Homo sapiens: one gene and its partner. The protein of the gene in region 1 purifies or fractionates together with the protein of each later gene. This does not show direct contact. Each region holds a gene or a part of one and is shown on either strand. Other genes may lie near its edges.

What was found.
Region 2: the proteins of DLX4 (region 1) and GPC6 purify together in Homo sapiens (affinity purification with mass spectrometry; 2 studies listed by BioGRID and IntAct, with this or other methods). This does not show direct contact.

Annotation. Positions count from the first base shown.
Region 1 is NC_000017.11:49,964,632-49,972,189, reverse strand, and holds the start of DLX4 (homeobox protein DLX-4), read right to left. Parts: upstream 3,001-7,558; 5' UTR 2,722-3,000; coding exon 2,439-2,721; exon of another isoform or gene 1-2,438. UniProt on the Homo sapiens protein: May play a role in determining the production of hemoglobin S. May act as a repressor. During embryonic development, plays a role in palatogenesis.
Region 2 is NC_000013.11:94,405,528-94,408,763, reverse strand, and holds the end of GPC6 (glypican-6 precursor), read right to left. Parts: 3' UTR 744-3,236; downstream 1-743. UniProt on the Homo sapiens protein: Cell surface proteoglycan that bears heparan sulfate. Putative cell surface coreceptor for growth factors, extracellular matrix proteins, proteases and anti-proteases. Enhances migration and invasion of cancer cells through WNT5A signaling.

The DNA of each region.
Region 1 (7,558 bases):
CAGCCCTAGAATGCTGAGGGACAGGGGAGGGTTGGGCCGAGGGGTTTCTGTTCTTCCAAGCCAGCCACCCTAACCTGCGCGGCTCTACGGGGACGCTGCAGAGGTCCCAGGCAATGGGAGGAGTAGGGCGGATGGAGCAGCCGCAATGCCCGGGCGCTTAGGGCAGCGTTCGCCGCATTCCCTGCGGGTCTGTCCAGCCGACCTGAGCCGAGAGAGAGCGGCTTCTGTCCGCCCGCGTCCCCCCACCTTCTTCCCCTAGTCGGGCTCACCCTCCACACGTCAGTGTACCCGCCCTCGGCCAGCCGCGGTCACCAGCTGCCGTCACCTCCCCCGCATCCCTCACCCGTGGCCTCGGGCGCTGCGGGCTTCTGAGATCCTCCCTCCTCGACCCTGCCTCAACCAATTCCCAGAAAAACCGTTGGGTTTCCGCTCCCGCCCGCGCCTGTCCTGCCTCCCCTGCCTCGACCCCACTGCTGGCAGCTCTGGGCTGGCAGCCCAGAGCCCACCCGCGCCTCTCTGGCTGCGTGGACTGCGCAATTCGAGCGGGGACGCAGAGTCTCTGAGGCCGACCCGGTTGCTGAATTCGCATAGCCCTCCGCGCCCCAACTCTCCCAGCAGACCCCCTCCAAGTTCCTTCCCGGACAGCTGCCTTTCCCTACCCCAGTTCCAGCAAGTTACGAGATCTGCCCGGGTCGCGATCATGGAGCCCCAAGGCCTCCCTCCAGGCCCGCTGCTCCCTACGGCTCAACGGGGTGGTGGCACCGCTCACTTGGAGCCAAACCTTTTCCCAAGGCAGGAGTGGACATAGAGTGGAAGTAAAAGGAGGACCCCAAGCTCTCGATCACATGCCCTCCACTCTAGAGCGCCCAAACCCACCAGTTCCAGCAGAGAAATGCTAGAAATGTATTCTAAGGAAATCTGGGTGTGTGTGGTTTTTCGCTGGATGGGGGAAAGTCCTTAAAGAAAATGAACTCTCCACTCTGTTGTCCTTAGATCTCAGACAAGACTGACAACACCAACCCTACTGCCAGCAATTCCCCTGAGGACAAGGTCATGATATTCCCACCCCAGTCCCCAAACACATAACACACACAAACATATCCTATTAGCATACACTAAAGGACAGTCAAAGGGATTCATTTGAAAAACTAGAACTACTCCTCCCTGCAACTGCGCCCACTCCAGCCACACTCCGCAGCCCAGGAGACAGCCACAGTTCTGTCACAGAAGGCAGTTAATTTTGGGGGGGTTGGAGGAAGCTCCCTAAAATCGATGCTCCTGGCCACATGCTTTACCCATCTATACATCAAAGAAGTTGAGCTTCTAAATCCTAGGGTCACTTCTGGCTCTGATGGTTTGTGAGCATGTCAGAGCCACAGGAGAAGGGAGGAAGATGTCTTGGTCCTGAGCTGACTCCAGTGAAGTCACCTAATGGGTGTGCCTCCTTGGAAGAGACTGCCAAAGACAATTGCAGGAGGAGGGGGTGAGCAATTAGATGGAGGCAGAGAGTCCAGAGACCTGGAGGCTAAGCTGGAGCCAGTGCAGATGGGATTGTGGGCAATGCCATACCCACATTGTATGTCAGCTCAGCTGCAAGGCCCAGGATCCCAAAGACGGGCCAGGTTCTCCGCTTCATTGAGGCCTTCCAGTGAGCACTTTCTCAGGAGCTCAGAGTTGCTCCAGGCAACGGGAACTGTGGCCTAACCTACCCCAAAGCCAAAGAGTGGAGATGACAGCGATGGCCGGCTCCTTTGGCTGGAAGGCTGAGGTAGTCAGGGAGAGATGAGCGACTTTCCTACCAGCCTTTGGCTACCTTCTCAGAACAATGGATAGAAGGGTCCTACTCCCAGATTCTGCCAGGCCAGCTTCCAGTCAAGGTCAGGCCTGGTCTGAGGAGAGCGGGTAAGGCCAGGGAAGGGAGAGGACAGAGCCCAGAATAAGCCTCGATGTCTACAGCCCTCCTACCAGGACTTGATCTGTTTTTCAGTGTTTGGCTTGATCACTGCTTTCTGAGACAAGACTAACGCAGAGAGGGGCGACAATGGGGCAGGAAGGGAGTACAGGACGGGGGCTGGGGGATTCTGACAAAGGGGCTAGGCCCCCATCCCCACATCTGGATTGCTTCAGTTTTCCGTTACTAGTAGGTACAGACAGCCCCGCTGCTCCAGGTGGGGGGTTGGGGGGGCCCTCTCGCCTGTCTTTACACAACTGCAAATCGAAACCAGGTCGGTTTTGAAAGGAGACCTAGATCAACTCTCCCCCGCCCCTCCCCCCGTGTCTCCCGCCCCATCCCTTCGCCCTCCCCCCACCCCCACATCCCAGGGAATCCAAGGAAGGTTTGAATCCCGCTAGCTGCGTCCAACCAGGCGAGGGAGAAGTTTAGGGGCGCACAGGAGCCGAACCCCAGAGGTGGGAAGAGCCTCCACGGCCGAACTTACCTGCCTCGAGTTCCTGAGGGTGCTCTGCAGGTCCGCAGAGGGGCTGAGAGAGCGCCGCGGGTTGCTGGCAGGACAGGTAGGAGTCTCCGGGGTTCGCTGGCTCGGTGTAGGGGTAAGACAGGAGGTGGCCATACGGCCTGGAGTAGGACAAATTGGGGGAGGCTGCGGTTGTAGGGGACAAGCCAAGCGGGTAGGCAGCCGCTACCGACGGGACAGGGGCGAGGTCTGGGAAGACAGCTTTGGAGGCGTCCCGGCCGGGGAGGGGGCAGGGCAAAGAGGTCATTGTGGCCAGGGCCCGGGCAGAAGGGCCATGGCCCGGCACGTAGTCCGCTCCCGCTGCCAACTCTCTTTTCCAAGCCTCCGGCGTTGGGCCGGACGGGCCCCCCAGCCAGCAGCCCCCACACTTAAGATCCCGGAGAAAGTGTCTCTCTGAGCCTCTTTCAGCGGAGAACGCGCGCCTGGGAAAGGGGTTCCGGGGGGGTGCCCCCCATGACTTTCCCCTCCCCCCCTAAATCCATGGGGGCCCCCTCCTCTCCATCGGGTTCGGTTCCCGGGACCCGACGGGGGCCCCGCCCTCTTAGACGTCCCGGATTGGCTACCGCCCGCGGTGACCTCACGGAGACTTGCAGCCGGGCCCCGCCCCCCGGGACAGCCCGCTGTAGAGAAGTGGTAAATGGGAGAGGGGCGGTGCGCATGCTCCAGGCCGGTCTACCTCGGGGTCTCCTCCGAGAGGTGCTGGGGTTGCAGAGCGATTGGTGCAGTCCAGGAACCTCGGTTATAATGGCAGAAATGCTAGAGAGGTGGCGAGACTGGATGCCCAAGAGACAGGGAGCTGGGTGGTGGGCAGAGGCCCGGGGGCTGCGGAGACGCAGGGAATCTGCATTTGCAGTCTCCCGATTTCGGGGATCTGCACGTCGATTCTGGTCCAGCCGCGGTGGACCTGAAGGGGAGTCAAGTGCAGACCGCCAGCGCCAACCGCTTAGTCAGCGCGTCGGAATGCGCCGCTGCTGAGCGCCGGCAGTTTGTTGGTAAATAGACGCCGGGGCTGGGAGGGTGCCGCCCGGCGCCCAGCCTGCCCCGCACGCGTGTGGCGCGCACGCCCCCGCGGGGCGCCCTGGGCCTGGCACGCCGAGACCGCCGCCGCTGCACCCCACCGCCCTGCGTGCTGGCTTCCGCTTCCGGCAGGGGCCCTGGTTTGGTTGCGACACCGCAGCTCCTTGCAGGCCCCCGAGGCTGAAGAAGGGATCCGCCCTCTGGGCTTTAGCCTGTGCGGTGCCCCGCCTTACCTGGCGCCGCAGGGGGCTGAAGTGTTGCTTGAACCCGGACGAAATCTGGGAGTGGGAGATGAGTCCAGTTGGATGGCTCCTGGGCGGGCACAGGAAATACTGCAGGCCAGTCTCCCTGGCGCATTTTCCAGGCTGTGTTCAGGACTTGCTTCTAAACATTAGTATCCATGGCCTCGATGGACACGTGTCCACGTATACAAGCATTTATTGACACGTGTACACAACTACACAGGGACTCCATTCAAATACAACATGTATACTCACATATACCAACATGGAGGTACCTACACTGATGTTCACACTAGCATTCCTCTATAAAAAGAGAGGTTCATTTGTAAATCTGCAAACACTTTAGGCTGTGATGTGTATACATCTACATACCTAAAGATGAATTAGCACTATCCCTAAATAAAAACACTATCTAGTACTTGTCTCTTACATGGATTCATGAGTATACAAGTCAAATCACTGGTGTACCTACTAGAAAATACAGAAGATCCAAGCATATAAAATGTATACTTGTGTTCCTGCTCTATGAGAAATACCTGTCCACACACATCTAAGATGCCTTATGTTAGATGTGTCCCTAAACTGCCAGTCTTCACAAATTCCCCAGCATACCCAAACACCTGTTCCCACTTTATGCAACTGGGCAGGCATATTCATGTTTGTACACACACACATGCTCTCATTGTTAGCGTTCAGAGTGAAGGTAGCCCTCGTAGAACTGGGAGATGGAAGAGGATGGTGATAAGAAAGAGAGATCAGGCAAGGTGGCTCAGGCCGGTAATCCCAGCATTTGGCCCAGGCAGGCAGATCGGTTGAGCTCAGGAGTTTGAGATCAGCCTGGGCAACATAGGGAGACTCATCTCTACAAAAAGTACAAAAATTAGCTGGTCATGGTGGTGTATGCCCGTAGTCCCAGCTACTCAGGAGACTGAGGCAGGAGGATCACTTGAGCCCTGGATGTTAAGGCAGCAGTGAGTTGAGATCATGCCACTTCACTCCAGCCTGACTGACCGAGTGAGACTCTATGTCGAAAAAAGAAGGAGGAGGATGAGGAGGAGGAGGAGGAGGAGGCAGCAGCCTGGAAGAATAGGAGAAAACACTGGCTGGGGAATGGAGCCCAAGCCTCCTTAGACAAAATCAATCAAATGGGTGTGCAGGGGTGGTTGAAGTTCAGTCAGGTGTCCTGCAAGGAGGAAGAGCAAGTCTATTTCAAACTAGACTCCCCAGTGGAATAGATAGAGGTGAGTTTTTCCAAGGAGAGACTCTAGCACCTGGCTTGGAGCTCTTCATCTTGAAGCCTTGGAGCCGGGAAGAAGGGGCTTTTGCAGGGCAGCTGGAGAACCCACTCCCCTCTCGTCCAACAGGCTGTGGAGGGTTTGCTCAGTAGAGAAATGCTTATTCTATGTGGGACTACCTTTCTCCCTTTCTTCCTTAATTCTCGCCATGCCACCATCTCCTTAGAGCTGGAGCTGTGAACCTGTGAGGATATATATCCTTCTAAACCTTTCATTCTACCATCACCATTTTCCTCTACAGGGATGGAGGCAGCCTTACAGCAGTGCTGAGGAGAGTTTCCAGGGATGGCATCAAAGTTGTGCATCAAAGGAAGAGAATGTTTTTTGGGTGGGGTTGGCTGTGAGGGAGGGTTTCCCAAAGGAAGTGCTTTTGAGCTGGAGTTGACAGGATAAGTGGAAAGACATTCCCTCTTAGAACCATGTGCACAGAATCCTTTCTTGTCAGACCCAGGAAAGAAGGGCAGGCATGGGTTTTCTGGCAGGGTTCTGCCACAGTTGGCTTTGGGCATCCTCCAAAGCCAAGAGATCCCCAGTGCATACTTGTCTTAAGTTCTAAGCTCTCAGGGCTTCTCTGGACTCAGAGGATCTTCACCCCTATGCAGCAGCAGGACATACTCTGCAGCCCTTTGGAATTTATCAAGCACTCACAACATCCAAGTCCTGTGCGTGCATACACACACACACACACACACACACACACACACACACACACGCTCAAACTCCAGGCACTATTATCCCCATTTTACAAATGAGGAAACATCTCCTTCCATCATCACCTGTTTCTTCAAGGCTCCCTTCTCCCATATTCCAGAGGGTGTGGGGCTGGGGCACCAGCTTGGGATAACCTGGGGTCTCCTCAGAAGCAGGCTCCCCAGGGAGGGATCCTCTCCAATAGGAGTCTCATCTCACCAACCTCAGGAAAGGTGGACGTGGTGAGGATGTGGGCTGGGAAGCACAGTAATCTCGTATTGGATCAGAGGGGAGAGAGGATGCTTGCTTAGGAAAAAAAGTTGAACCAATACAGAGACGATTAGCATGGCCCTTGCACCAGGATGACATGCAAATTTATGAAGCATTCCATATTTTACAAAAAAATTTTTAAAGAGGGAGAGCTGGCTTGAGACTCTTGAGGCTTGGGTTCTGGTCCAGTTCAGCCACGAAGTTGCTGGTTGGGATATTTTGCATCAGTCATTTGCCTTCTCTGAGACTGGTTTACCCAGAAGGGATAAAAGAACTGAGCTGGACTAAGAACTCCAAGCCTTTGTCATTTGCTTTATGACAAATTGCAAAAACTAAAATCCAAAACCATGAGAAAACCAAAAAGAAGAAGTGGGGGGAGGAGGAGGGATGGAAAGAAGGAAGAAAAAAAGAGAACTCTCTCCTGTCACTACCAATACCTCAGGCCCGGGATCTTCACAAAAGCCAGAAGTGGCTCTCCCAACTTTCCCTCACAGATCCTCTCGCTTAGCGCAAGGGGCCTGCTCGGAAAACTCCAGCACCCTGGTGATGCCGCGGGGACAGACGGCGGGGTCCAGAGTTGGGGGGGAGGGGATACGGCGCCGCGGGGCTCTAGGGATTGGGCCGAGGCGCAGGGATTGGACCTGATCCGCTGGGTGGACGGTAGTTTGCTTACTCTTCTTGGGTCGCCGGGCAAAGGCCATCGCAACCGCTCCGGTAATAATTCCTTGCGCAGCACAAGCACCCACGGAGGTGAGATGCATTCCTTGTTTGATCACCCCGAGTTCCGACCTTCCCGGTAGCGGGAATTCCCTCCGAACCAGCCCCTTCCCTGGCGGTCTATCACGGGCACCCCTAACACTTGGTGAGTGCGCAGTGCTCTCGGCAGTCTCTGGGCTCCATACGATGCCTACCGCACGCCCTAGCAGAGGAGGTCTCTGTCTGCCCCTGCAGCCGGATGCCGAGGTCTGTAACCCCGAGCCAGCACTCAGAGCCGCACCTGCGCGGATGTGCCAGCGGAACAGAGATTCCACCGCGACCATAGTCCTCCTCACTCCGCGGCCCTCCGGGATTATCCGTGCCCTTTCTCCTCCATCCCACCCACCGGCCCCAAAACGAACTTGTAGTATAGTATTGTCATTCGCAGTGATTTTCAGTTTTATTTGGAAGGACCTTTCTTTCTTAGTAACTCAGGTTGAAGAAACTGATTAATTCGGTTTGGCGGCGGGAAGGAAAGAATCAGATCTTCGCCCCAGCCTGCCTGAGCTCGGCCCCGCGCGCTGTGGATAGAGCCCCCGCATTCAGCGAGGCCCGGAGAATGGGCAGTCTGAAGAGACCTGCGTCCCCCCTCTCCGATTTGACTTTTCCTGAAATTTGGAATTATTGCGCCTCTTTTTCTCTTTCTGATCGAGCATTTAGTGCTGGCGCAAGCCGGGCAGCCGACTGGTTACTGAGCCCACGGCCAGCCCGGCCTTGTGCTTCCATTTGCGCTCACCTCAGCAAGCCCCTGAGCGCTTTCTCAGGGATTGGAGTTCCCCCTCATTTCCCAAATAACCCTGGAGAAGCTCCCGGG
Region 2 (3,236 bases), on another chromosome or scaffold:
TTAGTCAAGGTAAATATTCTTCTGCTCTCTTGAATCCAGTTTGTAATCCTTCTTTCACCTTCTCTCCAAACTTGAGCATTCACAGGGTAAAAGTCCCATTTTCCCAATTTCTCGTTTTGCTTTATGCTTCAAGGTATACATGAGCTTGCGCTCCTTAAGCAGGCTATAAAGGCAGGCATCTAATTCCTCCTGGCTTTGTTGCATGCCCTATTTATGAGCCAGCAAAATATGTTTGGCCACATGTTTACACCAGCAAAGAAATATGTCTATGGAATGGAAATGTGTCTGCACTAAGTCAGTTGTCAACGTCTATTTAAACAGACTTAAATTTGTGCCTGCATGTTTCTAGCTCTCAAGATACAAAAACACTTTATCCCTCATTGCCACTGTTTTACAAGTTGGATTTTTTAAATCAATGTAATTCTGTTACCACATTTGTGCATATACTTTAACTATATCCCTGTCCACTTATCCAAAGAGCAAATTAAAATAAATATTGTTGTTACCTGATAAAAGTGTCTGGTTTCATTTGGATGAAAAACACTTGGATGTTTTTCCTGCCCAATAAATTGGTTTCTGTTGCTTCCAAATAAAATTTGTTATATTTTGATCTTATAGATGGAATTATTCTAACATTCCTTAATTGTTTTGTAATAGTCACTTTTCTCAATAAAAACCAAAATAGTAATAATGTGAGCTAAATCACAGTATTTCTTACAGTTAAATGCTGTATTCTTGGTACCTTTGTTTGTATGGGTTCCTTTATTTATAAGATCATTCTTGAAATACATTATTTATCTGTAATAATTATGATTAGCTGCATTAAGGAATGAATAATTTTCAACTGGTGGTTTTTCACAGCCAGTGATAAATCCCCTAGAGCAGGGTTTATAGAGAATAAGAGTTCAATAAGCATTTGTGAAATAAATCTTTAGCAGGTTATACAATATTTAGCATGCCTGAGAGGATGGAAACATTTCAGAAGTATAAAAATCAATGCAATTGGCTAAATTGGGAAATTATTAGTCTTTTCACATTTGATCTTATTTTCTGACCTCATTTATAAAGTATTGACATCAGTTTTCAAGTCACTAAATTTATCCTCTGAGAAGAAATCAGTACAAAAGAACAGCGCTACAGTATTTTCCATACACATTTGGGAAGCTCTAAATGTTCTAAAGTTCAAATAGTTCCTGATTTCAGATGCTGAGTGTACTTAGGAGAGTGGCACTGTTTTAATATACGAGGTTTGTTGTTGTTTTTTAATATTGAAGCTTCTAAAAATGTCTCAAACACAAAAAATTCCATGGCTCTGAAATTTAGACTATGACAATAATTAAGAAAATGCAGAAAGGGCACTGGTAGATTTTTAAAAACTATTTTAATACAAGATTAATAGCAATTTTCTATCCAAATCAGAAATGAAAAATCTTAACCCAAATAATATTCATTTGACAGTCACATAAAATTTTAGATTTGATTGGTGCACACATTTATCCTGCATATATATTATGTATATGCACAGAGAGACCTCACTATTATGCCATTGTTAGGGGTCTTTTTTTGGAAGTACCTCATTACAAGGCAATGTCAAAGGTTCCAGTAACTACTCAACTTTGAATGAAGTTCAAAATGTCCCCATGCTAAGCTGAGTCTGTGCCATAGCAAACCATGATATAGCAAGTCTCCAGAATGTGTACAAATCAATACTCTCTTTGTATAAGTTGGTCTAAAACTAAACACTGGCTAATGTCTCCAACAAGGAGGAACACATTACAAATTTATAAGTTATGGTTTCCTTTACTCTTCTGTTGGCAAAGCTAAATTGTGTTTTTAAATAAAAATCAGGTCTGTTCGTTAGTAAGTAAATGGAAATGTGTTTAAATTTCTGCAAGTTTTAGGTAAAACTTGCATTTCCTAATGCGTCTAGGTTTAATCAAATCATTTGATAATTAGCTTTGCAAAAAGAAGTAATAAAAGAATCACATCTCAGGAATATGTTAAGGTTTTTTCCTCCTTAGGGACTTTAGTTCGTGTTCAGTCTGTAGCCGAAACATGTATGTAATGGCAAAAGAATTAAAGAAGGCTAATGTCTGCAGCAGGGAATATAAATTAAAAATCAGGGTTCTGCCTGTAATAATATTTTCAATGTGTTTGCTTTAAAGAATGTTACTTTTATAATTATTACTACTTATCAATGAATAATAATGTTTTTCAGTGTAGACAAAATAGTATTTTCTATCCCTTACATTTAAAGCAGGTGATACAAGTTACTTGATGCTAGCTAGGTAAGTCATTGTAAGGGAGACAGATTTCTAGTGCTAATGTTCTACGATGGCTATAATCAAAGTACCAACTTGGCCTTCGTGAAAATGACAGAAGGTTGTCATGGTTGTCCTTCAATACAGAACCATAAACAGAGCTCTTATTGGTAAATTTGTAATTCATTCTTCTCTGCTAAAGACTTTAGCCTCTGTTTAGCTTTTGTTGTGACACATACAAAGTATAATATATACCAATTACAGACGTGTATTTCTGTTAGAAAAATACATATTATAACTAAAGAACATGTAAATAGAGGCACTTCAATAAGCTAAGTGTTTGCAGTTATGAGCATCACCCACCAATTTCTAGTGTCAGGTTTCAGTGAGCCCATTCCTCTCTATTCATAACAAAAGTTATGATATGATTACAGAATTTAGGGAACATCAGAGCAAATGAGGGGCAGGTCATAAAAAATAATGAAGCCTCATTGCATCCCCTATCACTATGCTGAAATGAGAAAAAATAATTCGAGGGTTGAATTCCAAAATACTTACTGAAATAGGGTAACTAGGTTAAGTGAAATCCTTTAGGGCCAAAACATTTCTCATGTTAAATTAGTCTGAAAATCATATGACATAGTAGTATGATGATAAAAACTAGGAAGTACAACTTGAATGATATTTTGACCACATCCATGCAGGGTGCTAACACTGTGACATCATTAACTGATATCATTTCAGCTCTCTGCCTGGCTCATTATGCATCACTATATCTCATCAATATGAATCATATTGATAATGAAGGTGTTGAAACAAATGAAGCAGGCGTTTATATATTAACTGTGTGTTTAGTGCGTATAGAACATGGGTTCACATTCACTAATATTATGTGTATTCATACACATGCACAAAACCTTTTGGGGGTGAAAGCACAGGAAAAACAAGGCATCCTGATCTAGTTCATAAAAGAGA